Regions from separate parts of the Homo sapiens genome. Here regions 1, 3, 4, 5, 6 and 7 are each reported to be linked to region 2. The links are microRNA targets in miRTarBase. Many come from high-throughput screens and were not tested one by one. Region 2 holds a microRNA gene; each other region holds the end of a gene's coding sequence.

The links. The annotated mature microRNA hsa-miR-548g-5p reads UGCAAAAGUAAUUGCAGUUUUUG and lies in region 2 at 2,476-2,498, shown strand. An mRNA with a match to its seed (bases 2 to 7 or 8) in the 3' UTR can be bound and repressed. Matches are read on the target gene's strand: a 7mer-m8 pairs with bases 2 to 8, a 7mer-A1 pairs with bases 2 to 7 and ends in A, and an 8mer does both.
Region 1: miRTarBase lists TRIM33 as a target of hsa-miR-548g-5p. The part of its 3' UTR that is shown has no 7-base or 8-base seed match.
Region 3: miRTarBase lists CHIC1 as a target of hsa-miR-548g-5p. Seed matches in the 3' UTR shown: 7mer-A1 at 3,128-3,134.
Region 4: the mRNA of NFIB is a reported target of hsa-miR-548g-5p. Seed matches in the 3' UTR shown: 7mer-A1 at 2,469-2,475 and 8mer at 4,055-4,062.
Region 5: the mRNA of ELL2 is a reported target of hsa-miR-548g-5p. Seed matches in the 3' UTR shown: 8mer at 2,375-2,382.
Region 6: the mRNA of GMFB is a reported target of hsa-miR-548g-5p. Seed matches in the 3' UTR shown: 7mer-A1 at 3,595-3,601, 7mer-A1 at 2,084-2,090 and 7mer-A1 at 1,709-1,715.
Region 7: the mRNA of SFTPA1 is a reported target of hsa-miR-548g-5p. The part of its 3' UTR that is shown has no 7-base or 8-base seed match.

The regions. Positions count from the first base shown.
Region 1 is chr1:114,393,791-114,398,099 of GRCh38, forward strand. TRIM33 (tripartite motif containing 33) reads right to left here. Exons shown (of 20, transcript NM_015906.4): 19 at 4,150-4,200; 20 at 1-4,070. The coding sequence ends at 3,858. Among named protein-coding and RNA genes, the nearest start is that of TRIM33, 120 kb to the right of the region's middle.
Region 2 is chr21:18,684,324-18,688,632 of GRCh38, reverse strand. MIR548X (microRNA 548x) reads left to right here and starts at 2,469; the gene lies at 2,469-2,543. The region is part of intron 2 of MIR548XHG (MIR548X host gene); the gene reads left to right.
Region 3 is chrX:73,680,022-73,684,330 of GRCh38, reverse strand. It overlaps CHIC1 (cysteine rich hydrophobic domain 1), which reads right to left. Exons shown (of 6, transcript NM_001039840.4): 6 at 1-3,376. The coding sequence ends at 3,326. Among named protein-coding and RNA genes, the nearest start is that of CHIC1, 120 kb to the right of the region's middle.
Region 4 is chr9:14,084,484-14,088,792 of GRCh38, reverse strand. NFIB (nuclear factor I B) reads left to right here. Exons shown (of 11, transcript NM_001190737.2): 11 at 467-4,309. The coding sequence ends at 484. Among named protein-coding and RNA genes, the nearest start is that of LINC00583, 160 kb to the right of the region's middle.
Region 5 is chr5:95,885,311-95,889,584 of GRCh38, reverse strand. ELL2 (elongation factor for RNA polymerase II 2) reads left to right here. Exons shown (of 12, transcript NM_012081.6): 11 at 455-499; 12 at 598-4,274. The coding sequence ends at 714. Among named protein-coding and RNA genes, the nearest start is that of LINC01554, 35 kb to the right of the region's middle.
Region 6 is chr14:54,474,247-54,478,555 of GRCh38, forward strand. GMFB (glia maturation factor beta) reads right to left here. Exons shown (of 7, transcript NM_004124.3): 7 at 239-3,913. The coding sequence ends at 3,842. Among named protein-coding and RNA genes, the nearest start is that of GMFB, 13 kb to the right of the region's middle.
Region 7 is chr10:79,613,379-79,617,687 of GRCh38, reverse strand. It overlaps SFTPA1 (surfactant protein A1), which reads right to left. Exons shown (of 6, transcript NM_005411.5): 6 at 2,245-3,951. The coding sequence ends at 3,575. Among named protein-coding and RNA genes, the nearest start is that of SFTPA1, 4.6 kb to the right of the region's middle.

The DNA of each region.
Region 1 (4,309 bases), not on the chromosome of region 2:
TGCAACTTTCCCCAATTTTTAAAATAAAATGCCACAATATAGTGTCATTACTTCCAGCATACATTTAAATTTCTTAATTTTTAAAAGATAGACTGGGTGATATGCATACAAACTTTCCTATAAAATCACCATCCAGGAGAGGATTCTGACATGCTATTAGGCAACAGACTCAAAGCAGTGTTATTGCTTTATCAAGGAGGAGATTAACTGTGAGGGAAAAAAAATTAAATATCCAGGTCCGGTACATGATCAAACTGTATTACACCTTGAAAATCTTGAGTCACCTTCAGCAGATCATTAACATAGATGGTACAGAAATTAAGAATTCATGGTATGAATTAAGAATCTGTTTTAACTAAGGGAGTTGGGTGCGTGGATTTTTTATAAAACTACTCACTGATCCGATGCTGAGTATGCAAATAAGCAGTGCTGATTTTGACAAGAAATGAGATTTTTATATTTCACATGTTGTACATGAATGGGGGTGGATATGGGACGTAAAAGCCAAGGGAGACGGGGCCACAGCATCTACTCCCATTTTGGATAGTAAGAGACCATTTAATAACATACAGTAGGCCACAATCCAAGGGCATAGTTGGAAGACCTGAATCTATTATCTTATTAACACTAATCACTAATAATTACATGGCAGGATACCTGCTGAGGTAATTGATAAATCTACAATTTGCACACTTATAAACCTTTTACTTCTATTTAAAAGCATTATTTATTTCAATTAACTAAAAATTCCAAAACTTATCACAAAAAATGAGACAACTGACTTAGCATTACCTAAAATTCCCTTATGTTAAGATACAGAAGTCAGAAAGTACCAACTTGTTGATCCAAAAATAATAATTTCAATAGTGGATCCAATGCCTTATCATTTCTCTGTAGTAATGGTTTGATGTTTCCATATAGAGCACGACCTACAATCTAACCATACTTTAGAACTTTCACATGCTTTGCCTCATAAAGCAATTCCTTCACTCAGTGAATTGGCTGAGCCAAGTGCTGAAAACACAAATTTAGGTCAGCGGAACAGACTGAGCAACACTTTGTTCTTAGTTTTCTGATGGAAGAAGTAAATTGAAGTACAGCAAAAACTTTAAAAGCTTTTAAGAAAACATTATTATGTGGACTTTTCTCCAAATCTTCTAAAATACTGCCATTTAAAAAACAAATACAAATGTGAGAGAGTATAAAAACAAACTGCCTTCAGGGACTGACAGATACAATTTTGTCTTTTTAAAACATAAACTAATAGGAAAACATATATCTAAATATCAATTTAAGTTTTTATACTTTTTAACCATAGGTATATTAGAGCTGAAAAAATCAGCTTAGAAACACAACGATCAGTGTGCAAGAAAAAAGCTTTAATAAAAAATCTAAAGTGAATACCTTAATTTAATGGTGGTATGTTGATAGCTATTAATAGTAATTCCTCAGCAGTATACATTATCTTAACAGAAGTGGAGGCTATTAAATGTTGACAAAAAAGTGGCTTTTAAATTGCTTTAACCAATCTTAAAACCAAAAAAACCTAAAAACTCTATCTAACATGTAATTTTAAGGAAACACAATTATTTTTTAAGGCCCCAAATACTGAAAAATATTTACTTAAAATGTTTCTCCCCTCAGTTGGCAGAATCTATTTATGACTCATTATCTACAATTTTTTTAAAAGGATCCATTTGAAGAGCAATACAAAATATTAGAACTCAAAGGCCTGACAAAATGAAGTTATACTGCTGCTATTCCTCACTTTCCAAAAATGTGCCCTTAGATATATGTCTACTTACAAACTGAAATCATGGATTTTGTGAAAAAAGAGGGAAATTGGCATAGGCATAAGTATTTTTAAATAATTTTCTCCCTCTTATTAAAAAACATTTTTAGGAATTTAAAATTTGAGTAAAATGTTTCAACAGTTTGGTATATTTTCAACGGCTTAAATTATTTTTTAAAAATTGAAAGAAAAGTGAAAAGGAAGCCAGGAATAAAGTAAATCAATAGTAATAATAAAATCAATACTCTTTAAATACACAACCAGAAAGCCTGAATCATATTCCTGTTTACCCCCACCCCTTGTTAAGAAAAGAAAAACAACCCAAAGGAATTTGTATAATAATTTCTTTAGAGCACTTTATTTGATTCAATATGCATTAAAAAATATTGACCTCTTAGACAATTACGTGAAATAATTTTCTGAGTAGTCTACTCTCTGAACTGCTTAAATGAATTTTTAAAAAGGCAAATAAATGATTTGCCACAAATCTGCTGACTTCTGAAAAATATCTAACAGCAAATTCTTCTATTTTGGTCTCTGAATATTCTAATGTGTCCATACAAAAGTAGGACTAAAATCTTTAATCAAACAAAAGAGAAGCCTGTAACAGTGTAGAACACACATTTTGAATCTGAGCATCACAAATGAAGAAAAGAAAAATGAACCAGAGCCAAGTTGGTTTATCGGCCTCGGGTGCTGTAATTGGGGTGGTAAAGGTGGGTTTACTCCAGTAACCATTCAAGTGGGGATTGGCTCATTTTCAGGATTTACTTACAGGTCTCTTCTAAGTCCTTTAAGCCCCCAGTCCATGCAAATGTCCCACTTGGTGGACAGATGAGTAATCTAACCCCACCGGGTTTATTTCAATATTTCGATATTTCAATAATAAGCTGCTTCTGAAGATTTTTTGAGAAGTCTGTTCTCTATTAAAATAAGATAGAACCTCAAAATATGAATGTGAACATTAGAAATAGACAGCATATATTACAAATCCATTCTTGATAGGAACATTAGTAAGAATACACATTAGCTTAAAAAACAGGCTCAGCAAATGTTGCTGATCTGCCAAAAGTTTTAGTTCACTATTTACAAATAAGACAAAGTGAAATACAGAAAATTTTACACATTTGGTAGTTGACAGATACTGTTTGCCAATAGTGGTCTATCAGAAAACTGACATGAAGGAAGACTGGAAAAGAGCCAGTTGTCACCTTCTCAAATTTAAATGTACAGAAAACTAGATTAATTTTGAAACAAACATTCTGCCTTTCATGGGAATAACTGTATGATCACATGATTTGATTGGGAAGTACAATTGTGAGGAAGTGTTTTCTGGAAACAACTACTATAACTCTAAATAATCCACTAATGAAAAGTTACCATTTTTGTTTCAGTAGACCATTGAAGTTGATTAAATGATAACTAGTGGTAGTGTTTCCTAAACCCTAAGTATGAGTAGAAAATAAAACCATTGCTGAGTTCTTTATATCAATTTAAAAACTAAGACCCAACAGCATAAAAATGAGAAAAAACATAATGGCATGATTCAATGCAAATCTGCACTGACATTAAAGTAGAATCTGAGCTACTTGGGTTTTTAACTAGAAAACAACCTGATATGTATGTGTGTGAAGGGGGAGGGTTAAAAGTTGTTTTAATAACTGTGCGACCTAGTCCAAAAAGAAAATTTATCAAGTGACACGAGTCTCAAGTATTTACTCGTATACCAAGTATCCTGCACCAATCAATAGCACACAATCATCAATATTTGCCATTTCTAACAATCAGAGAATCATCTCCATTAGAACAGAAATCCTCAAATCATTTCACTTTTGCTTTTTGCTTTGAAACTTGCAAACAGACTTCTCTCCCCCTTTCTTGACAAGAATGTGTTTCTGTCCATTATTTCAATCTAATACTGTGTAAAAGCTATCAGCTTCTTCAAGGAGGTGCCCACTGTAGGCAGGATATTCCAGCAACACTTAAAAGTTTTCTGGGTTTTTTGTGTTTTTTTTTTTTTTTTCGTTTTTTTTTTTTTAAACAATTGATTTAAATCCATGTCATTTTACTTTATATGTACTGGTCTCTCATCTGACTTTAGGCGTTTTCTGCGGGGCTGTATAAAGTCTTCATCAGAGTCCTCAGTTACCTCACCATCATCCTCTTCCTGCTCAAACTCTGGCAAAGGTGCGAAGGTCCTGTCTGAGTAGATCTCTGTGAGTTTATCTTCAAAGTACAATGCAACTGCTTTCCCTGCCTGAGCTACTTCTGAATCAGCCTGCAAGCAAAAGATAGGAATATTCACCTATTGGTAATGCATATTCCTTCACCAAGTTTGCATGGTCTGAAAAGCTTACCTTCAAATTAATCTCTTGTGTGTCTGCATAAACTTGAACAACTTTCATCATCTAAAAAGGATACCAGAGTCAAAAAAAAAAAAGGGAAATTATAATCCTTTCTAAAGTTATGAGACTGCATAGGATTGGCGACGAAAAGTCAGCCATACTAGGGAGAACA
Region 2 (4,309 bases):
TCTACTGATCATCAATGTTAACCTCATCAGACAGCAACATCCAGACTGGTGTATTTAGATTAGTGTTTAACAGAAGTGGATACCATAGCCTAGGCAAGTTGACACACAAAAACTAACCATCACAATGTATGAAATATTCAGTATGGGTGTCTATTTTTATTTTTTCTTTTGGTGTATTTTTAATATTTAGGGAAGTTTATAATTTTGCTCTAGAAATTGCATGAATGATTTTACGTTTGTAAAATATCCTTTTTCTTCAATTCTTTTAAACACCATGAACATGAAGTTGTATAGTTTTCCTTTCCCCTTTCCAGGATACCATCACCCACATTTAATAGATATCAATAACTTTCGAGTGTTTTTCATTGTTTCCTTAAATAGACTTGATCTTTTACTATTTGATTTGTAGCTTTAAATAATACCCTTTGACATCTAGCAATTACGATGATGTAATCAGAAAACTAACTTTATTTTTTATCTTCTTATCAAAGCCATCTGTTCCGTTTTGTGTTAGATGAATTATTTCCACATTATCAGAGCATATACAATATATAATCTATTCTGTCAACTTTAGCCTTTCTTTCATTTATTTGTTAAATAGCAATTACTCCTTTCCACCTGGAGTTCATCCCCTCATAATGTTGTCAAGGAGGCTTCCGCAAACAGTATTCACAAAGTTTCTTGCATGTTCAAAATGTGTTTTGTTTTTAAACTTCAAGAGCACCTGCTTTGTCTGACTCTTTCTTTCCTAAATTATCATAGATTTTTCTACACTCTCTCTCCTGGGTAGAATGTGGTTGTGGTTGTGACTATTTCACATTATAAAATGATGACTGTATAAATTATTATACAAACTAGAAGGGGTTTTGGAGTGAAATGGGTCAATATCATGGTATAATAATTATACCAGCATCATAGGCATAAAATCTGACTGTTTTGCACCAACTGTAATAAATGGAGTTTTGTCCTGAGACCAGCATGATATGTGTTATTTTACATTATCCCTAGACAAGTTGATAACCACATGGGGAAATGAGACAGGACATGAGAGGAGTCCAAAAATGAGTATGATAATAGAAAAGTCCTGCAAAGAACAGCTTTTACTCAATCCTTCAAAAATAGTCTATTCCTGATTAGAGAAAAAGCGCTTGGAGTATTTAAGCCTCTACACACATCTCTCAATGTTTAAGAGCTGTTAGCAGGAGAACAAAAGTTCGGAGATAATAGTTCTCCAATTCTGTAGACAAATCTGATTCTGGCTACTTGTGCATAGTACATAGTACATGGTGCTAGAGAAGCAGGTACTTACTATGGGGAATAGAATTACATGGGGACTTTATGCAAACAAATGTTTAAGGAATCTGATATGATATGAGTGACACACTAACAGTACACCATAATGCAGGGGAGACTTACTAATATGGTTTGACTGCATCCCCACCCAAATCTCATCTTGAATTGTAGCTCCCATAATTCTCACGTGTTGTGGGAGGGACTCATGGCAGATAATTGAATCATGGAGATGGTTTCTCCTATACTGTTCTCCTGTTAGTGAATAAGTCTCACGAGATCTGAAGATTTATTTCCTCTTTCACTTGTCTGCCAAGACAATGTAGACTTGTCTGTCTACATTCTCTCTTGTCTGCCACCATGTAAGACGTGCCTTTAGCCTTCTCCATGTTCGTGAGTCCTCCCTAGCCACCTGGAACTGTGAGTCCATTAAACCTCTTCTTTTTTATAAAGTACACAGTCTTGGGTATGTCTTTATCAGCAGTATGAAAACTGACTAATACACTTCACTGTCAATCTCTAATTTTCAAATTGTGGCTAGTTACAATTTCTAGGGGAAAAAGTTATACGAAAAGTGTTAGTGGCAGGAAAAAAAGACTCCATCACTTGTTAGTCCAAAGGCCTTAATTGGTATTTTTATCTTACTCCTCTTCCATCTATTCTTGTATACCTCTTGTATATGAGCATGTGCAGACATGTTATAAGTTAAGGTTTCTTTTTTGTCTTTAAATATACTTACATTCCCTCTGGGATAAAATTGTTTAAAAGACTATAATTTTTCTCATTGAATAACCATGGAAATACTTTCAAAAATTTAAGCACATAAAAAATGACATGTTTCTGGATTTTCTATTCTGTTCCATTATCTATACATCCAGTTGTAAACCTCAGCCATACTACCTCTATGACTGGTGCCTAAAAGGAGTATATAGGGAGTCTTGGAAGAAAAAGGTGCTGCTCATCTAATTTTGTTCTTCTTCCTAGAAATCATTTTGTATATAATATGTCCTTTGGATTTCCATATAAAATTTAGAATTAGCTTAACAATTTCTACAAAGAACTTTGCTACAATTGTTTTTTAAATATGCATTGAACATATAGATCAATTTGGGGAGAGATACTATCATAACAACATTAAGCCTTCCAATCTGTAATCACATTATACATTGCAATATATTAGGTTAGTGCAAAAGTAATTGCAGTTTTTGCGTTACTTTCAATCGTAAAAACTGCAATTACTTTCACACCAATCTTAATATTTCGATCTTGTTTTATTTTTCTCAGCAAAGTTTTGAAGATTTCAGTAAACAGGTATGGCATACATTATGCTAAGTTTATTCCTGTGTTCATGTTTTTAACGTTGTTACTAATGGCATGTGTTGTATTAATTTTTATCTTTCTCATATTGCATTGGCAAGAATGTTGATGCAATATTGAATTTCAGTGGTTAGACTGGATATCTCTACTTTGTTCTAGAACTTAGAAGGAAATAATTCGTTTTGTTCATGTAGGGCCAGCTTCATGCACTGTACCTTGTACAGTCATACAAGATTTCATGCTCAGAAGTGCCCTGTTTTTGATTTAACACTCTCTTATTACTGCCTTAAATTTTTAAATAATTTTACCTCTGTGTTTTAAAAGTGCAGTATGATGGGACACTTGAGTACAAGTGTGAGCAGAGATGTCTGTGATATACATGTTCAGTTTCTTACTGTTCTATTCACATACAGCGTTTGTGATGCCACGTGAACGCAGAATTCTTGTGGACCCACAGTGCTTGAAAGTTCAGCAAGACTCTGAGTACAAGATAAGCATTTTATGTCTATAAATGAGTGAGCAAGGTTGACAACTCCAAGAGGCTACACTTTCCATTCAAAACCAGAACTCAATTCAATTGCAAACAAGCAGTGACTTTCCAATAAACACAAACAACCATGGAACCCTATTACATAATTTATTTTCTCTGTTACTTTACTGCATTATTTAACTACCTATGCTGAAAGTGACACAGAAGGAAAGGAAAAGAAAGAAGGAACAATAGTTCTTTTTTTTTGTCCTTGCTTATTACTTATTCCATCTATTTTTGTTGTTGCTTTTTACTTGCTCTTTGTCAGTCTTTTATTATTTTTGTATTTCATTTTAAATACTGTTAATCAACTATAACTATTTTTATGGTTGTTTTGTGTTCACAATATATATCCTTATGTTATTAGTTTATTTTAACATAATACTGTACCATATAAACACACAGTATAAGCAGCGTGTTATGTCCCAAAAACGGTTTCAGAAAATGAAAGGAAACTTCTACATTGGTAATCATTGTTTGATTATGTATACCTTAGCTTCCATCAAATAACAGCTTCCTTGCTTAAAAACTGTAATAGTTCATCTAGTTCAATTTAGTTAGTGATAAATTCCTCTAACTTTTGTTGTTGGGAAAAGTATCAGTTTTACCTTGATTTGTTGTAGATATTTTACTCTATATAAAATTCTAGATTGATGGTTATTTTTCCTTCCTACTTCAAAGATATTTTATTGTCTACTGCCTGGCATAGTTTCCTTTTTTTTCTTTCTTTTTGCTTTCTTTTCTTTTCTCTTCTTTCTTTCTTTTTTTTTTTTTTTGAGACAGAGTCTCAATCTCAGACAGGCTGAAGGGCAGCATCATGAACACAGCTCACTGCTTGACCTCTCACACTCAAGCCATCCTCCCACCTCAGCCTCCTGAGCAACCAAGACTACAGGCGCAAACCACAATGCCTGGCTATATATATAATTTTTTTTTTTTTTTTTTTTTTTTTTAGAGACTGGGACTCACTATATTGGCCAGGCTGGTCGCAAACACCTGGGGTCAAGCATTCCTCCTGTCTTGGCCTCCCAAAGTGCTGGGATTTCAGGCATGAGCCACCATGCCCCGTCCTGGCATACTTTCTAATGAGAAATCTGTGAACATAGTTATCTTTGATTTTCTATACACTATTACTAGATGTTCATCCACGGCATGTGTGGTTTACATTGTGCA
Region 3 (4,309 bases), not on the chromosome of region 2:
GGCCATAATAATATGAATAGTATGTACATTAAATACTTAAATGGGTTTTGGTGGGGCTTTAATCAAAGACAACTGTCCTTCCAGAACTAAATTAAATTACATGTTTACTAGCATTAGAATTATACTGTTTTTTTAAGTGACTGATAGTCCGGTTCTGTAATATTTTGTCACTAATATATCATGATTGGGGAAAAGGAAGGAAAGAAGCTTTACATAATAAATAAAAGATAATACACTAGTAAAGTATTCTTAGACCTAGTTGAAAAGGATGATTTCTAATCTAATCATCTACCAATTCATTTATTATGCTTCCTTACACGTAATGTGTTATCTTTGTTCTAAAAAGACAAGGCACTTCTCCATCTTCTTCTAAAGTTTTACTACAGTGGTCTCTTTCCTAAATTAGCATTAGGAGGGAACAAAGAGTGGAGACATATCTGGGATGGAGTTAATAAATCTGTAAATAACACTTGCCCATATTAGTTATTAGGAATAAACATGTTATTGGCTTTTAGGACAAGCTTAAAAATAGCCAGTTGGACAAATTTATGAAGCCAGAATCTTGGGCCAAATGAGAAACATTGGAACATTAATTTTAAAAAACAATTTTAGCTTGTAATCTTAAAGCCTTGTGAGATTTATATACTTTGGCAAATACATGTTTTGCTCTGGAAACTATCACAAGTTTCATAAAGGAATATTATGTAACAAAGAAATTCAAAATTACTTTCTTCAGTCTAAAAACAACTTTCACAAAAGTATGTTACTAACCTAATGGAAAATTACAAGTATGTTCTATCCTAAGCATAACAGAAAAAAGGCTCCATGGGGGAGGAATTAATCACCAGTGTGCTGTGTCATTTTAGCATTCACTGCAACCAATTTCACTGAAAACAAAGCAACCCCGCCCAAACATTACAAAATACTCAATTGCTAATCAGCCCCCTGCAAAGGAAAACAGTTTGAAAAAGTAGTCATACAAGAGAGGAAAAAAATTGGTATTTTTTTGGGTAGTTGAAGAAACTAAGATGAGTCAACCAGCATAGCGAACAATAAAATAATAAACTCGAGTGATTAGAATAGGCTTTAAAATTAAGTTTACACATGCTGACAAGTGGTTTTTGTGACAAATGCTACTGTAACTTGTATTATACTGTGTCATTTCCAGATATACTGTATTCCCATTCTCAATAATTGTTTCATGGAAACAATTCACCACTTCATGCTGTTCTTTGAGCAAAACCAAGTGTGATTTATACATGGCAGAAAAAGTTCCTATGACCATCATATGATCAAATTCTAAGGTTATAGAAAAAAATAAGATTTCTAAGGATCAACACTTAAAAGCAATTTTCTATCAGTGAAAATGAGATATTTTGTATTATGCTGAAAATCGATTTTGGTATTAAAATATCACAGTTTGAAGCATAAATTTGATAACATTAGCTGGAACATAAACCTCAGATACAATTTTTCCCGACCTTAGCTACAAAACAAGACATTTGGTATACATTTTCAGAGGCTTCTACCTTGTCTATAAAAATACACCTTCAATTTTGCAGCAGGCAAACACATAATATTTGCAGGCATACACATTACTAAAGGTTAGAGATTTGGGGTGACTGAGTGGCACAGAGGTAATGGGGCACAGAGGAAGGTGGAAAAGTGTTTGTGCAAACAATTATAATCACATATAAAATAGTGTCTTCTTTTTCCTCTCTTTTTTAAACTGGTCAAGGACTGTGGATTTCAAATTAGGCATAAATTTTAAGAGTGGCTTAAAAAGGCTTGACCTTCTATGAAGAAATGATTGTTCACTTCACTGAGATGAATCTTGCCTAAAAGGTTTACTAAAAGCAGTAAGAGTAAGATGACAAAATATTACTGAGCCCTAGACACTTTTATTTTTAGCACTATGAATTACAAATAATGCCTACAAACAGGCATACATTTGCAGTTGAATTAATGTGATATAAAGCTTTCATTATACTGAATTTTCAAATTCTAGTTGTGTGGTGCTAGCAATCATTTTAATTGTGAAGAAAAATAGAGAAATATGGACCAAATAAATGTTACATATGTGCTGAATTTATAAACTAAAATACTTTTGTCTAAACACTTGTCTTTCCTCATTAATGTTTTATAAAGGATCATCAAAAACAGAATTGAGAATTTTTTTTCAATTATGAATCAGCTGCTATATACTCTTTAGCTACAGCTTCTCAAATAGTTCTCTCTCTTTCTCAAACTAGAATATCAGAACTGCAGAAAGGTGTTAGTGGCTTTCAAGAGGGTCTAGATACCTTCTGAAGATGTCTGAAATCTCAAAATACTCCTTAAAAGTCATAATTGTGTGTATTTTCAAAGGAAGAAAAGGCTAATAAATGCAGGATAGTGAGACTGTGAAATGTGTCAGATGTCAAATAGTTTTTTTGTGGGAAGGAGTAGACAACAAAATGGAAATTATTAAACGAAATGGAAAAATAAAGGTCATGGTTTCAGGTGCAATACAGAATATCTGAGATAATAATTTCAATTTTAGTCCACTTGTTACAAAGGGCAACCTTGCCCTACACCTGAAATTCTTAACATACTCATTATGGCCTTGCCATAAAACAGCATGTTAGCAGTTTCTACATTCAAAGGGATGCTTGCAAACTTCATTCATATTAAAATCTATGTAAAATTGTTGGCAATACAATAAGAGTAATGTTACATTATGTAAACCATGGCATACCACATTTTACATTATGCAAAGAGGCAATATTTACAAGTCTTTAGGAGTTTAAATATTTTATCCACTAACATAAGTGATAAAGCAAAGTGCAGGACAAAACCAGTGCCATTAATTGCATGTCCTTTAAAAGCATGTCCTTTAAAAGCAGAGTAAAACCATTTCTAAAAGCTACCAAAAGCTTATTTAAGTTTGTCCAGTAAGGGATTACAGAGCATCAAGTAGCCTAGAAAAATGATGCGAGTTTAGAAACAATGAGTATGAAAATTATAAGGCAGCATGCTCAGAACAAGTTTTTGTTTTTTAAACACCAACACTGATGATTTATCTTTAATGGCAACTATCTATATATGTATATGCACACACGCATGTGTGTGTATTTAAAATTGAGAGTGCAAAACACAAGCCTCATTGAAAGACAAAAAAGATGTGCAAATTTTCTTCATAAACCAACACAAAAGAGCGAGAAGAATATTCTACCATTATAAAGAATAAGTTGAACACAGCAAAGGAGACCATCTTCATTCCAAATCTACAAGGCACTAAGGGTAGGAAATGACAGGTAACACAGAAGTGACTGGATAAAACTCCTCAGTCAGGTCGGAATATGGGATATTTTGGTAAGAATTCTATTAGTATTACCTGCAAAATAAAAACAAGAATATATTTACAAAATATTTTTCATTTAATATAACTTATAAATAACCCAGAAAGTCTATAATCATTTTTCATAGGACAATATTTCAATCCTGAACCATATAAAGTAAGTGAAATACATGAAAAAAATATGTAAAGAACTTAAACCACAAGTTGTTATTAGATTGGCAATTTAAAAATTAAGCTGGCAAACAAAACTACTTATTGTAGCTAACAGATTTTACTATCTGATTTACAATAACTATTTGTCTAGGTTAACAGGAGCAAACTCCATTAAATTATATTATGTTTTTCCCCCACACCCCTATCTCTTTGTTAGCAAAGTAGAGATTAAAAAAATGCTATACAGATTAAAAAATGCCTTTATATTAGATTTATATATTTTTCAATTAAAGAAACTGATATTAGTTGGAGATTACTATCGTTCACAAGTTGTGAAAAATTAATGTGCCCAAATGGATTGAGTAAAACATATTAATTACAAAAGGTTTGAAAACATAATTTTAAAAAACTCGGATATTTTTGAATGTTTTATCTATAATGAATTTTAGACTTGTGGTCATATGCATATTTTCCCCAAAATTATTCAAAGTGTAGAGAGATACCATAATAATCCTTACTTATGAAACACACATGGAATGTTTATTATTAAATATGTACTACATATTGGAAGTTTGGATAAATGTAATATTTTCAATGTTAATTATGCTAAATTGATCACATTGGCTATATGTGAATTTATGTCTTATGACTAAGATTGTATAGCTTTCAGTTAAAACAAAAATTAGAACCTACAGTTTCTTCACTAAAAGTTAAATGTCAGCCAAAAAAAAAAAAAAAAGCCAGTAATAGGAATCCAGAATGCAGATATCAACTCCTATTTTATGCAAGTTTTGACAAGATTACATTTAGAAATAT
Region 4 (4,309 bases), not on the chromosome of region 2:
GCAGGTAAGAAATTGAAACCCATCTGACCACTGAATTGCTTGTGAATTAAAGGTAAAATAAGATTAGAATGTAACTGGCAAAGTATATTGGTACCAACAGATTGCTGCTTTTCTTTTTCTTTTTTTTCCTGTACAAAAAAGAATGATATTGCATTTATATTGATTAATGTAAAATATTTTAGAATATCCTCAATCGGTTAGAATTCAATAATTGTTTATATATCTTACTCTGGATTTTTCTGCCTCACTTTAGTCTTAATTTTCATTTAAAAAATAGACTATAGAGTTTAGATAGGTGTAACATGTATAATTTGGCACATTTATCTCATATTAGACTGTAATTTTGAAAATAGGGATAGCAATAATTTGATGCATCTGGAATTTATATTTCTCATATTGTTGTAGATTTTAACATTGTATTTTTTTCTTTTTTCTTCCCTCCCTGCTGCCTCTCTCCTCTCAACAGTCCTGGTACCTGGGCTAGCTTGGTTCCTTTCCAAGTGTCAAATAGGACACCCATCTTACCGGCCAATGTCCAAAATTACGGTTTGAACATAATTGGAGAACCTTTCCTTCAAGCAGAAACAAGCAACTGAGGGAAAAAGAAACACAACAATAGTTTAAGAAATTTTTTTTTTAAATAAAAAAAAAGGAAAAGAGGAAGACTGGACAAAACAACACAAAGGCAGAAAGGAAAGAAACTGAAGAAAGAAGATAATAGACCAGCAATTGCAGCACTTACAATCACTAATTCCCTTAAGGTTGAAACTGTAATGACATAAAAAGGGTCGATGATATTTCACTGATGGTAGATCGCAGCCCCTGCAACGTAGCCTTTGTTACATGAAGTCCGCTGGGAAATAGATGTTCTGTCTCTATGACAATATATTTTAACTGACTTTCTAGATGCCTTAATATTTGCATGATAAGCTAGTTTTATTGGTTTAGTATTCTTGTTGTTTACGCATGGAATCACTATTCCTGGTTATCTCACCAACGAAGGCTAGGAGGCGGCGTCAGAGGTGCTGGGTGACAGAGCCATGAGCCAGCCATTTTATAAGCACTCTGATTTCTAAAAGTTAAAAAAAATATATGAAATCTCTGTAGCCTTTAGTTATCAGTACAGATTTATTAAATTTCGGCCCTTAACCCAGCCTTTTCCAGTGTGTAACCCAGTTTGAAATCTTAAAAAAAGAAAAAATGAAAAAAAAAGGAAAAAAAGAAAAAAGGAAAAAAACAGTTTGAACACAAAGGCTCTATGGAAGAAATGCCTCTATGTAGGTGAAGTGTTCTCTCTGCATGCAACAGTAAAAATTAATATAATATTTTCCCCACAAAAGAAACACTTAACAGAGGCAAGTGCAATTTATAAATTTATATCTAAAGGGGAATCATGATTATAAGTCCTTCAGCCCTTGGACTCTAAATTGAGGGGATTAAAAAGAATTTAAAATAATTTTGAACGAATTTATTTTCCCCTCAGTTTTTGAGGGCATTAAAAAGGCATTAAATCAAGACAAATCATGTGCTTGAGAAAAATAAAATTAATGAAAACACAGCACTTATGTTGGTTTAGCTGCAGCCTCCTTGGAGGTAGAATTTATTTATTTAAAATTACTGGTTGCATCAAGAACCCATAGGGTGTACAAAAGGTTCTATAAAATCTGCATTATAGAGACAAAGAGGCAGGCAAATCCATGTCACAAGGGTAAAGCTTACAGTTTACAAACTGGGAACGCCAGGGTGTAGGATATAAAAACGCACTCTTGAGAAAACAAATGTAATCAGGGTGCTGAAAACTTGCATGGTGCTTTCAGACATTAGCCTTGTTCAACAAATTTCTTGTATTGACAGATCCATAGTGTGCATGGGCAGACACATTTTGCCTCTATGTCTCTTAAAATTTTAATTAAAAATACTCTTTCCAGTAATCCTAATTTGCACGAAGATATAATGTCCACATTACGTGCCTTGCCTTGAAATCTAAAAAACAAAAAACAAAAAAAAAAAAACAAAAAAATACAACAAAGTGACATCACTACACTTGTTTTGCTGCATTTATTATCATTTTAAATCTTTACCATTTTTATGACAAAATATTTTGTACTCCAGACGAAGAAAAATGTGTGACATCATGGATTTTTTAGACAGTTATACCTTTATCTCACATTTATAAAGCATATCATGGCTGTGTATAGTTGCCGCTTAAAAATTGTAATCGACCAGCAATATTTTCAGTATTTTGGTGTTTTTTTCTATTAACCTTTCATGTTTTTCATCTTCCAATTAATATTTGGGGGGGAGGGGTTTCAAATTTATACGAATTATGCAATACCAAGTTTTGCCTATGTAGGTAGTGCTTTTAGCTGTATTGGTTATTATAGGTAAGTACACAGATTTAAAAAAAAAATAATGTATGCTTTTTTGTTTGTTTGTTTGTTTTAATTGACCAAAGTGGGTACTGCTATTTTTGCAGTGTGATGAGGTCCTTTTGTGTACTGAGAGATGGACAGGGGATTTTTTTTAATATACATATATATATATTCTGGGGTGGGTGGGAGGATTTTTAACACTTTGCAGTGTAGCTGTGAAGCAGTGCACCCTGAGATGGGCCTGGGCTGCAAAGCGACTGTTCTGCCTACTGTGACAAACTTCAACTTACACAGGTTCCCCTCTCTAACTTCCCACCTGGGTTGCAAGCTGAACTCATTACTGGTTTTCATAACAACACAATAGTAAGAACAAGCAAACACAACAAATTCTCCTGGAGGCAGACTTGGCTTAAAAAGGCAGACTTGGCTTGGTGATAGTTTTTCTTGAAAGTTCCAGATCCACAGTGGAGAGTGAGCCTGTCTCATATTTGGCAAAAATATTTGTTGAAATGTCCACATAGGGGATGTTGGATGTTTAACACTTTTGAGAGTTTAACACATGAATATTCTTTCTCCTAGAAAACACATTAGACCTGTTGGAGGGAGTCTCCCGTATTCCTTTTCTGCCACTTTTCGTCCCCATTTCATTTCATTAATGATAGGATATGATTTACCTGTGACTTACTACTTCAAATGGATGGCAGTGCACTTGGATTTTTTTTTAATATCCAGAAGATTGAACAGAGGGTTGCTATTGTTGAATGTATTTGGACTGATAGATTAAAATCAAAGTTCAATTTTTAAGGAACAAAAAAGTAAATCCTGTTTTCATTTTATCTCCCCTTTTAAAACTGAGAACCAGAGCAGAAGGGAAATATAGAATTTTAAGCAATTAATCTTCCTGTGGATGAATTAAACCCATTAGATGCTGATGGGATTTTTTTAAGGAATGGTACCTTAACTATATATTTGATTTCGTTTCCCCTGAGGGCTAGAGGCTGAATGGAGGCTGGTTTTATTTTGCCTTTCCCTCACCGCCCAGTCCCATTGAGTGTATTCATTACTAGAAGGAAAATCTTTCAGAATTGGTGACACATGGTAGGCTGTCTTAAGGAGTCCCCTGGCCCCCTTCCCCTAGGCCATGGCCTAATAAAATAAACTGTCAATTGTTCTCACAGCATATCATTTAATAATGAATACTTTAGAACAATGCTTATGGGCTGGAGAATTGTATTTGATTAGCCCATTCAGTTTGATAGCCCAAATGCTGAACAGCACAGCGGGATCCTAGCAGTGCAAGTTCAAAAGTAAGTCCAATCATTTCTGTGATACTCGCCCTGGTAGCAAACAGATCATCTCAGCCAAGCTCTTCATGTATCTTTGACCTATTAGGTGAACAAATGAACCTCACAGGACACACAGTATTTTTTAAAGGCAGACTCGCTCTCTTTTTTGCCAGTGAGCAGTTCTAGCTAACCAAGTTACACACTGTGGGTATTCCTGCCTGCCTCTTGAATACAAAGGCCTAGTTCAAGTGTTGCTTTTTTTATTTCAAATCAATTTTTTCTTCTTTCCTTTTTGAGATAAAACTATTAAAAGTACTACTATATATATAAAATCTCAAATCAACTTTTCGGCCTCCTCCTCGTGTACCAGGAAGTATATTCTGACGAAGGGCCCCACTTTTGCAGGTCTTGCACGCCCCTCCCTTACCCAGAACTGCAGAGCTTCAGGATGGCGAAGGTCACCCAAGGGCATGAGTAGGGAGTGGTGTCTCCAACCATCAGTTCCGTGGCACTGTTCAGCCTTTGTGTGCTGCCCTGCCACCCACCACTCACAGTGCCTCTGAAGCGTGTTACCCCTGGAGTGACGTGAGCATTTGAGGCTTGTCTAAGGAAAAAAATAAAAGGCAGTGAAGGAGACTGTACATAAAGACA
Region 5 (4,274 bases), not on the chromosome of region 2:
TCTCTTTTAAACTAATGGTATCAAGCTGTCCATATTGTTCAGCACTTTGCTTTCTTCACTAAACAATATAATGCATCTTAGAGAATTTTTTTATATTGGTACATAAAACACTTTGGCATGTTTTAATGGCCTCTTAGTATCCTTTGTATAGATTGATGGACATTTCAATTTTGTTTACTGTCTTTTGCTTTACAAACAGCACTACAGTGAATAATCTTGTATATGTGTCATTCACTGGGGAGCAAGTGTGTCCATAGGATAAGTAGAATTGCTGAGTCGATTTTGCATTTACTATTTTGATAGCTGTTGCCACATTGCCTTCCATAAAGATTGTTTCAAGTTACATTCCCACAGTCAATATTTCCTATACTCTTGCTGAATGCATGTTATCTATTTGTATTGCCACACACAAAAGAAGTTGTTCTCTTCTGATTTCTAATATTTAATTTTGTAGAATGTTCATGAAGAAGTCTTACAAGAATATCAGAAGATAAAGCAGGTAGGTATCATCACTGTTGATTTTCTGACCTGTGGTTGAAAAATGTTGTAAATTCTGCAATCTCATTCCTCTTTTTTTTTTTTTTTTTTCATCTGCAGTCTAGTCCCAATTACCATGAAGAAAAATACAGATGTGAATATCTTCATAACAAGCTGGCTCACATCAAAAGGCTAATAGGTGAATTTGACCAACAGCAAGCAGAGTCATGGTCCTAGAACTCTGCTTGGACCAGAAGATGTGAATAAACTTAAGCTTATTTATTTAAAATTCCAAATGAGTTGCTCTAGATTCTAAAAAGGTGAAACTTTGGCTGTTGAAAGTTTCAGTATTAGTAAACTTGAGTTACTTTTTCTTTTCCATTTTACTTTGCTTCCCTGCATTTCGAAGCTGCTCTTTCTGGTCCTCCCCACCACCCCACCCCCAAGACTTGTGTTTGTTAATAGAAATAATTTTTTTAGGTATTGGGGATCCATTGTCTATATTTCAAATCAGTTTTTTTTCCTCAAAAACTTGTGTTTGTTATTAGAAATGATTTTTTAGATATTGGGGATCCAGTGTCCACACTTAAAAGTTGTATGTGTTTAAAAAACAACAACAGTAATGTGCAAGGTGAAATGCTTTTGGATAAACGTAAGCCTATTTTCTGACGTTTCTTAATGCAAACTCTTTGCCTTAAATGGTAGAATATTTAGAAATTTGCACAAAATTAAAAAAATAAACATTGTCTTGGAGGGTTAAAAAATAGAAAGGTGTATGTGTATAGATTCACATACACATATGTATATACAGGCTGACTTGATCTAGAACATTAAATCCGCCCTGCAAGTTAACCCCCCATTGCAATGGTTGCCTTAAGGTGTTTGCTAGTTGTGTACATAGTGTGGTTAATCATTAGCTACACTGCTTCCCACTTGATTAGAGCAATGGGAAGCATACTGTGGCCTACCAGCATCTGGAAGTGTGTGCTCGATCTGTATGTGTGCAGAGGTGGTGTGGATGTGAGCGTGCATGAAGGAAAAAAAGCTGCTACTCCTAGTAGGCCAAACGCTCAGGTTAAACAACTGACGAGTGTTACTGTAGGGTGTTTTTTTGTTTTTTTGTTTTTTTTCTTCTATCAAATTGCTACTTTTGTTGTGGAAGACAAAAGCATTTCCATTTCAACGAGTTTGTCAGCTTTATTAATGTTGGGCAAAAATTGATATGTCATGAAAATGAAACAGATCTATAGTTTTGGGACAAAATTATAAAATGAAATGTGTAGGTAACCTATTTATATACTGCTATAAAGTATTTTTTGAAGAGAGATATGCAAAGAAGCTATTACCTACATAAGAGGTATATTTAAAGATTTTTTTTTTCATCCTGGTGCCAGGAATATAAAAAAGAGTGGATATATTTAACCATAACATACTGTGATTCATCAAACAGCACAAACTTTCATTTCATGGAGTTTATCTGTTGACATTGATTTAAACTGTCACTTGTTTTATCATGTGGGAACATAAGTTATGTGGTCAAAAATATAAGGATTTTGAATTAATGTTGATTCAAGTTGTATTGTCTTATTGTATTGTCTTTTCAAAGTGCTGCCAGTTGAAAAGGGAAGCATTATGTTTACAAATCTGTTTTGAAATGTTTGCCAAAATTTTGGTAGTGTCTTTAATAAAGATGTTTGTCTCCAGCATCCAGAAAAATAAATGAATAACTTTGTTGTGTATCACTGTAAACCAGAAAAATGTTGGTTATCTAGAAAACTTGAGAGAGCATGTAGATTAACTTTTCTCTTTGGAGTTCTAAAACATTAACTGGAAAGATTAGATAATATACTAAATGTATACAGAAGTATACAGACTATACAAAGACTGAAACAAGTCCCTTTTGCACTACAACTCTATAACATTACCGCAGAAATTTTGGTTCTATGTAGCATGGACCTCCTAAGGAATTCTGTTTCTTTTAGCATTGAGATCCCTGGTGCTCTTTTTTTACCTCAGAATTGGTACAATCATTATTAAACGTTAATTTATTTCAAACTTTTTAATTGAAAAAAGGAAAGGGAAACTTAATTGGGGATAAATTCAGGCATCATATTATTATGATAGAGTCTCCTGAGTGGTTCGTCTATAGGTAATGAACTCATTGGTGTTATTTCTTGGACATCTTGGCCTTTTAATCAAAGACTGTGTGCTGCTATTTGCTATGAGCAAGGTTTCTCAAAAGCAAAAGGTGCTTGGACCATTTGGATCACCTGAGTTAGAATCTCTAGGTATAGGGCCCAAGTATCTGCATTTTCACAGGTTTCTTGTAGGTGACTTTCTGCAAGCTAAAGTATGAGAACCATTGGCTTGGATGTAGTTCTAAACTTTTAGGTCTGTAAATCTTGAAATCTTGAACTGAAGGTCAACTATTGGCTTTTTTTTTTTTTTAATGTCCATCATGTCAGCAGGTGCAAATCACTTTTCCCCTTTGCATGATCTGAGGCACCTCCTCAGTTGTTTCACTGCCAACTCTTGTTTCAGAACCTGTTTACAAACAAGCCTTCCAGTTGGTGAATGGTTAGCCATTGGAGCTCCTACCCTGTACATCAGCACATCTTCTGGTTTACAAGTTGGGTAACAATGAAAGCTGGAGATGCTAAATGGAAATCCAGCATTGCATACCCTTAGACCTGATCACATACCAGTAAAAGCCTTAATTTAGATGTTAGTTGTATGTGTTGGACAGATCCTTGCAAAAGTGTGTCTGTCTATTAGTTGTAAATTTGAAAATTATAAATCTCTGAATCTGCTACTATCCAAGTTTCATCCCTTTTGAAGATGAGGCATGAGCCTATTAAAATATTTATAATCATTTTTCGTCCCCTACTGCAAGACTTTTAGATTCTTACAAATGATTACTACAGGAATAGTGGCCACTTAATGTCAGTTACTCCGGTGGAAGAATTTATCTAGTTTTTTTTCTTTTCTTTTTTGGAAGGATGGTGTGAAAAATAGCAAGATTAGAGAATGAGTTGTATAGTTTTTTCTATCACATTTCATCTAAAATGATTTGAAGGACTTTTGAAGATTTTTACCAACATCCTTAAATCAACTCCAGGTTGGATGAACAACTGATTTAAAACAAACTAAGAGAACATTAACTAGATGTGGGCTTTTTAAAATATATAGGTATTGCATTTCCTACCTTGTTATTTATTCCACTTTGAATACTTTAGAGGGCTTAACTTTCAACTCTTTAAGGTAGTAATGGATAGTTTTATACTTGTTCTCACAAAATTGTTATGGTCAGTTTATATCATTGCTCCATGCATTGATTATAAAAATTCAGTATTAATTTTTTCTGATCTTATAAGCTTTATAGGAGTTTTCTTTTCTCTTATAAAGTGTTTCACCTTATGTAAAACAAATGCCTGCTTGCATATTGGAAGATGTTGAAATTAGTTTTAGACAAAAGTGGTCCATCAATTCAGACACTCTGCTTGGATGCCTTACCCTTTTCATTAGTGCATTCTTTGCTTCTGAAACTTGGCAGAAACTCGTTAGCCAGTCCACTGCCTTTCTGACAATGTGTGGAGTCACGTATGCTTGGTATATGCCTTTACTACTTTTAAAGTTCTACAGTTTATTACTTGCCCAAGTGTTACTAAATCCTTTTCTTATGTGTACTGGATGGAGAAAAAATTATAGCCAGCACTTTGAGAGGAAAGTTTTCAGAAACAATATTAACTGGCACTACTAACTGAAGGCCACAGGAGATGCTATCAATGTTATTTGTA
Region 6 (4,309 bases), not on the chromosome of region 2:
AATAGCTCTGTCTGTCCCTACTACTGTTTACTGACATTTTCTACATTTTAGCATCAGACCAAGTTTTAGAAATTTTTATAACTTGATTATCTTCTCCTTCCACCAAGCTGCCAAATGACTTGTTTATTTTGCCTCTCAGTTTGTCCAGATAAAGTTTATGGCTCACACAAATCTAGCCAGGTACATACCAGTAACTCCAAAGGGGGAAAGAGGTGAGTAAAAAAAGAAAAGCTGGAAGTCTTTTAATGTTAACATTTTATTTAAACCAGTACAAGCACCATGCTTAACAAAAGACTGTCCAAAATAAACATGCAATATGAACTAGCAGAGACTGAAACCACAGCTTAAGGAGTTGTGTCAGTTGTTGGTTTTGTTAAACGATGACAGAGAACTGTTAAAATTCACAAGACTAAACCATTAATGTTTCAAGCCTCCTGAATGAGATTATCTTGGACCATCTAAATCAGTGGGAACTGCCCTGGCATGTTAATGATCTCAAACAATATTCAAGTAATTATATTTATATGAATTATAATCCAAAAAGCAATAAAATACAATTTCTATCACAAGTTTACTGTATATGAGCACTGATTTGAAATGTCAAATGGCATAATAAAAACAAATTTCTCAAGAATATTCAGCTTGGGAGCATTGGTTTTAAGCGGTCTAGAAGATTACTACATTCTTCCAGAAATACAAAATAAGATTTGTCCAGAAATGTTTGAAACACATCCTCACAAAAGTTGTAATGGCTCAAACTCTATAAATTCCAGTATTATCAGTCTATTGAACAAATAGGGAAAGCAACCATAGTAAGAATACTTGAATTGATAGAATATGAGTTACTCTCTACTTCCACCAAATATCAGCATTTAAACTCTTATGAAAATATCTATTCATCACTAGTCCACATATGGATTAATGACATTGCTCAGGTTTTAAAAGCAGTCCAAACATTTTTTAAGTACACCTTCCTTAATATCTATATGGGTTGGGGGGAACAGCCAAATTTAATTTGGCAATAAACTCCCCTAACTGGAAATTTTTAGCTAAAGTGTCAGACAAGGATACAGTTTATGGCTACATTTGACTCCTGAAAATAGGAGATAAAAAAGGAGGGAAAAGTGCTGACACACATTTTGCCACACAGATTATTTAGTAATGACAGTAAAAAATTTAGCAACACACACTTAAACAAGAGTATGTTTAACTGCACTAGGCATTTAGTAAACTTTTAGAACTAGACAATTTGAACATTTTAGAAGTCAATTAAACAAAAACAGTCAACCAACTTTTTTCCTAATATAATTGCGTCAATACCAGAACAAAGTGATCACTATTCAAAACTCAGACATTTTGGAATTTCAGCATAGTAACCTGAGAAGTTTTCTTCGTATGTATTTTTGTTGTCATGGAAACCACACTAAATAATACTGTGATTACCAGTTGGTTCTATTTTGACATTAGATGCTATGCAGAACTTATGCAGGGCCAAAAATTTCAAAACTAACACTGACTTAGAAGACCACGAAGGAGGATCCCAGGAAAAAAGTTGCTGCTAAAAAGGACTCAGATTTAAGGCTGAATGGGAATGGTTGTACCAGAAAGATAACGGAATGTAAAAACTGGAATTATGAAATCTGGAGTTATTATTTGGGAAATGGCAGAAAAAAAGACAGTAAATACGAAACATACTTGAAAAGAACAATGCAAAATTTAGTAAGATGAAAGGGAAATCTATATAAATGTTTGAGAACATTTTAGAGCACGGGATTTGTAAATTTCCCCATAGGACAGATGGAATAAAAATGTCCTACTGATCCTCTAACCTCAATCTGTTGTCTTGCCAAAAACATGTTATTAATTAGGAGTCAGACAAGCTCAAAAAAGCATGGTTTATCACAGCTCTTTGCTCCTGTTAAAGACAGTAGCGGAACTAAGAGTGCTAACGTATGGCAGGTCAATATTATCTGACATTATGGAGGACCTCCAAATTTAAAAATAAGCAAAACTAAAACATGCAAGACAAAATAAGGAACTTCATTAAAAAATACATTCTTGCAGCACTAGTTTCTCTTACTGCTGCAAAACAGGTGAAACAAAACCTCATTTCCTTCATTCAAAAACATTAAAAACACTCTCCACTCACTTGGATTACATGTGCATTCCTACAGAATTATATGCATGTTATTCTCCAATATCAAAATACCTGTTTAAAGAATTTTTAAACTTCCTGGGTGAGTTTTCTCTTCTCTCTGGAAATTGGAATAAAGAATCTTTTCCCTCCAAGAACCAAAACAAACACCTACTCTAGCACTTCCTCATCTCCAACTTTCTATTGCTTCCTGACTTCTAAATTAGTGAAGCCAAACAGTGTTGGGAACAGAAGATGTTCTATTCAATATCGCAAAAATTCCAACTATCTTTACTTCTCACAGAAACCTCAAAAATAAAATGCAAAGAACATATGAATGGAAAACATGCCAAAATTTAAATTTTGCTAGTTTTGAGATGACTAAGATATTCTTAATATAAGAATACACTCACCAAGTTTGGTTAGTTTTTAGAGTCTCTAGACCTATTATCAAATTAATGTTCAATGGTTACTTATGTATTTGTTTTTACAAGTATGCCAAATATCAGAATCCTCGCTTTATGCCAAGAGTACCATCATCTAACAAGACTGGTTTAGTTAACTATTCAGGCATCCAGTTCAGAATATCTTCTGACATTTAGGATATAAGATGTGATTGCTATTGAAGTGTTAATGTTATTAACTATGGCCAAAGTTTTAAGATAATTTTTTCCTATGGCACAAAACTAACCACAAGTATACCCAAAATTATAACTCTCGACTGCCATATATTCACCAATGCAAGCAGATAGTTGGAATTTTTAAAATATGAAGTTGATTTTATTACAAATTTCAGATATACACATTAGAAAATTATTTTATTTGGACCCTTTAAAAAAGTATTAATTTCACCAAATGTGGAATACTGGCAGTGTAAAAGTCTTAAACTAACTTTAAAGCTAACAAATCAAAGGCACAGTATTAACACATTTAAAATAATTAGTGTTCACAGGACATTGAGGTGCTTTATAAATAAAGTGTTATTAACCTAGATTCAAAACTGTCTAGAAATGACATAAAAGGAATGAAGCCCTTGATTATTACAACCCACCAATTTCTAAGACTAAGATGCTATAAGGAGAAAAGCTAACAGTCATAATTCTATCATAAAATCTAACTCCCGACCTTAAAAATGAGTGACTGATGAACATAGTTTCTAGACTTGATTAAAAAGATACAGGAAACCAAAGAAGATACAGAATTCATCAATGTACTTGTAATACAGGTTACACTAAATTATTCATGGCTCAATACTGGGTCACTCAAGTCTTTGACCCCAAATGAATTTCAATGATTTGACAAGTGATAATACGCTATTTTCATAAATAAACTGCTAATATCCAGTATTTGTCAAAAGGAGGCAACTGTTGTCTCTCACAATCTAATATATCCACTTTCCAATGGTGTCTGTAAATAGTAACAAATTCCGAACCATAAGTTATAGAAATTAGTCACAAGAGTGCAAAAAGTCCCTGGAGAAAAGTAGTCCACCTAACAATTACCAATATAAGGAAACACTTTACAAAGTTTCATTACTATGAAGATGATTTCCTCTTTGTTCAAATTTTGCACAAATGAAGAATTTTTCTTTACTGCAGGAAACAAACTGTAAGTAACAGTGCATTTTTAGGCATAAATAAGTATTTATGTCTGATTCCAGTATGGTCAGGTTAATACATAAATACTTTAGAAACACAGAAGTTCACATTAGTGAAAAAATCCAAGTTTCTCACGTAACCATTCTTCAGTTAGGTCTTCGGTATTTCTTATTTCAAATACCTTTAAAAAAAAAAAAAACTTGGGTCATACTTTGACACTCCAAAAAAAAAGTCAAATATTTGAATTTTTTAAAATATATTTGAGTATTATACACCAAACTATTTTTGGTTATATATTTGAGTATTAAATACCAAATTCTGCTTCCTTTCATATTGTTCATGACTTAACCTGTGTAAATGAGATATACCTTTTAGGTAGAACTTCACTTCTTTTAAATGCTAAGTACTCAGTTACCAAAGTACAGCAATCAAGACAACATGAAACCAAAACTCTCCCAAAAGCACAAATCTACAAATAGTCTAAAAGAGCAGTTCTGTAAATCTTATCTCCTAGAAGACATCCCAAGTAAACACAACTAAAATCAATCTAGTTAGGAACTGAGGAACATACGCTGGT
Region 7 (4,309 bases), not on the chromosome of region 2:
AATGAAAAAGAACTGACATAATAACAAACAGTCTCTCAGACAATAATGCAATCAAATTAGAACTCGAGATGAAGAAGTTCACTCAAAACCACACAACTACATAGAAATTGAAAAACCTGCTCTTGTATGACTCTTGGGTAAACAATGAAATTAAGGCAAACATCAAGAACTTCTTTGAAACTAATGAGAACAAAGACACAACATGCCAGAATCCCTGGGACACAGCTAAAGCAATGTTAAGAGGGAAATTTATAGCACTAAATGCCCATATCAAAAAGTTAGAAAGTTAATAACCTAATATCACAACTAAAAGAACTAGAGAACTAAGAGCAAATAAACCCCAAAGCTAGCAGAAGAAAAGAAATAACCAAGATCAGAGCAGAATCGAAGGACACAGAGACACGAAAAACCTTAAAAATATCAACAAATCCTGGAGGTGGATTTTTGAAAAAAATAATAAAATAGATAGATCACTAGCTAGACTAATAAAGAAGAAAAGAGAAGATTCAAATAGACACAATCAGAAATGATAAGGGGGATATCACCACTGACCCCACGAAATACAAACAACCATCAGAGAATACTATAAACACCTCTGTGCACATAAACTAGAAAATCTAGAAGAAATGGATAAATATGCCCTGGACATATACGCCCTCCCAAGAAAGAATCAGGAAGAAATGGAATCCCTGAATAGACAAATAATGAGTTCTGAAGTTGAGGCAGTAATAAATAGCCTGCCCACCAAAAAAATCCCAGGACCAGATGGAGTCACAGCTTAATTCTACCAGAGGTACAAAGAAGAGTTGGTACCATTCCTACTAAAACTATTCCAAAAAATTGAAAAGAAGCAACTCCTCCTTAACTCATTCTGTAAGGCTAGCATCATTTTGATACCAAAACCTGGCAGATACAACAAAAAAGAAAACTTCAGGCCAATATTCTTGATGAACATTGATGCAAAAATCCTTAACAAAATACTGGCAAACCGAATCAAGTGACACATCAAAAAGCTTATCCACCACAATCAAGTAAACTTCATCCCTAGGATGCAAGCTTGGTTCCACATACGCAAATCAATAAAAGTGATTCATCACATAAACAGAACTAAAGACAAAAACCACATGATTATCTCAATAGATGCAAATTTTCAGAGGCTTAAAGTATTTATCTATATAATTGGGAATGTAGACTGTCCTGGATTTACAACTGTCCGACTTACAATTTTTCCACTTTGCAATGACTTAAAAGCAATGCAAATCCAGTAGAAGCCATACTTCAAGTACACATATAACTGAATTATTCATTCAGTTTCAGTCCAGCATTCCATAAATTTCATGAGACAGTCAACACCTCATTATAAAATCAGCCTTGTGTTAGATGATTTTGCCCAACTGCAGGCTAACATAAGTTTTCTGGGCATGTTTAAGTTACTCCAGGCTCAGCTATGATGTTTGGTAGGTTAGGTGTATTAAATGCATTTTCCACTTAATATATTCTCATCCTGCAATGTGATTATTGGGATGTCACCCCATCATAAGTCGAGATACATCTGTACATGCTTCTACTTGCTTTTTTTCTTAATTTTGAAGAAGGCTCAATAATTTCTGTGCTGGGTCCTAAGCACATATGGAATGGTGATCAGATTAAAAATTATCACTCATAAAAGACTGAGAAAAATTTCCTCTTATTCTCATTGGTTTTCTGAGCTTCCTTCCGCCCAAGAAAAGCAATAAATGCACTGAGAAAGAGTGTTCACAGGTGTTATAGGGGGAGAAGTGGGAGGTGGGACACATATGTAGCTGCCTCCTCAAGCAATTGGAGACATTGTCTCATTCCTGCGCAGCCCTGGGTCATGAGAGTGTGGTCCCATTCCATGCAGACCTGAGACTAGGATGGCTCACTAAGGCCTGGGACTGAGCCCTGAGTGCCACCATCACTGCTGGGCTGCAGAAATCATTCAGGTGGCTGAGTAGGGGACAGAAGACATGGTATTCCCACCCACAAATGGACCATGTGGACTCAGGAAGCCCGTATGTTCTTCCAAATGGTGGCTGTAGCTCCCCATCCCTCTGCAGCATCATAGTGAGGAGAGGAGGTGGCTCCTCCTACCAAACAAAGAAAGCACATCCTGAGATTGAATTTTCCAATCTTCAGGCAAGTGGGGGCTCAGAGTCAGAGTTCATTTGATTTACAAAAATACAGAAATGTGATATTTCTTGGAACCAAAGCTATGGAAACTCATGTGAACACATTCACGATTTATTAAGCTTAAATCATCTTTATTCAGCTCAGGAGTGGGGTGGCTGGAAGCATAAGCTTCAGGTCCAGGAAGATGGGTTTGGATCCAGCCTCTGCCACTTGCTCTCTGGAATAATACTCAAAACATTTAACTCCTCCAAGCTTCAGTGTCCTTATAAAAAATGAGGAAACAATACTGGTCCCGTGACATTGTGTAAAGATTGAATAGTACATAATATGCTGTATTAGAAGTGCTTGTCAAGGTTCTTGGCAAATGATAGGTGCTCAGTCAATAGCCTCTGTGTATAGTAACAGTTCTGGTAGTAATTTTGGTAGCTGGGGGGATGGTAATAACTGTGACAGCAACAAGTATCTTATTCCCATTTCACAGATGAAGACATAAGCTCTGGGAAAAAAAAATCTTCAACTGTCACTGATTACCTTGCCCACCCCACGACATATCCTAAGACCTGGCACGTGATAATTTTAATGAAATATCTGGGTGAATGGATTAATGAAAGGAGAAAGCAGAGCCAGTGGTGTGGGGGGTGGTGTGAATGCCCACTGAAATCTGAAGTAGGGTGCAGATTTGTTCATCAGTTGAAAGTTACTCGGGTCACATCTGAAGGCGGCTCTAGGTCACCCTAGAGGCCTAGGCTGGCTGTCTTCAGGTCAGGGGGCTGAGTTGCCATTCAAAGACTCAAAGGAGTGAATCGTACACATCAATCATGGGGTTGGCTTGGCCACCACCCTGCTGGAACACTACCTGGCCTTCTAACCTCATGGAGAGCCTGACCAGGCCTGCCACAGAGACCTCAGAGTGCCAGAGAATCTCCACTGTGTCCTTAGCTCTGCACAGTCAGGGCTTCCCCGAAGTCTGCCTCTCTCTGTCATTATGCTTGGCCAGGATTGCTCATCCTGATGGCACTGGGTTGCAGAGAGAGAGCTGAGGGGACCAGGAGGCAGGCACTTTGTGTGACTTTGGAGGGTCCTTCTACCCCAAGACCTCACTGCTGCCATCTGTAAGTGAAGGAACTGGACCAGATGGGGAATAAGGAGGGCTCCATCTCATGTCGAAGGCCAAGGCTAAGAGTGGCTGCCTGGGGTGCAGTGCTGGGAGAGTTTGCAAGGGGAGTGTCAAGGCTGGTCAGTGATTATGGGGAAGAGTCAGGGCCCATCAGAGGAATGAAGTGGCTAAGGGTGCCTCCAGTCCCAATAGCCACAAGTGAATTCTGTTGAAAGGGAGTTCTAGCATCTCACAGACCAAGTGGAGCCTCAGGATGGAGGCCGAAGGCCAGAGAGCGTCCTCCCTGTCCCATGGCCTAAATGCCTCTCAGAACTCACAGATGGTCAGTCGGGAGTACAGGCAGTTCCTGTCATTCCACTGCCCATCTGTGTACATCTCCACACACTGCTCTTTTCCCCGACCTGCGGGCTCCCCTCGGTACCAGTTGGTGTAGTTTACAGGGGTCCCGTCTGAGTAGCGGAAGTCTCCAGGGCTGGGACCCTCAGTCAGGCCTACATAGGCATATGTGTTGTACTTCTTCACGAAGCTTGCAATGGCCTCATTTTCCTCTGGATTCCTTGGGACAGCAATGCGGCCGCCTGCTCTGGCACATGCCTCCTGAATGGCATCAAAAGTGATGGACTGCCCATTGCTGGAGAAGACCTTCTCTCCTACTGTCATTATGGAGCCCTGCAGACTGAGGGCTGAGAGCAGAGGAGTCCGGGTCAGGCCACTGACCACTTTGTCTCTAAGCCACCTCCCTCACCTGGGGTCTCTGCTACCAGATTCTCCCCAGTCTCTCCATCTCTGCCTCTCTCTGTGTCTTCTCTTCCTCTTCCAATTGCAGTTTTCTAAATTCACTTTTAGACTCTCCTCCATTTATTCATTCACCTAAGTAACAATTACTTATTGCCAGAAATGGTGCAATTTCCTGGAATTCAGTGGAAAGCAAGGCAGGTGGAGAACTTGCTTTCCTATGAAATGGGGAGTGAATTGTGTCTGCTTCTGTCTCCTCTGGGCCATTCAAAGACATCAGAAAAGCAAGCGTCATTCCTTTCCCCA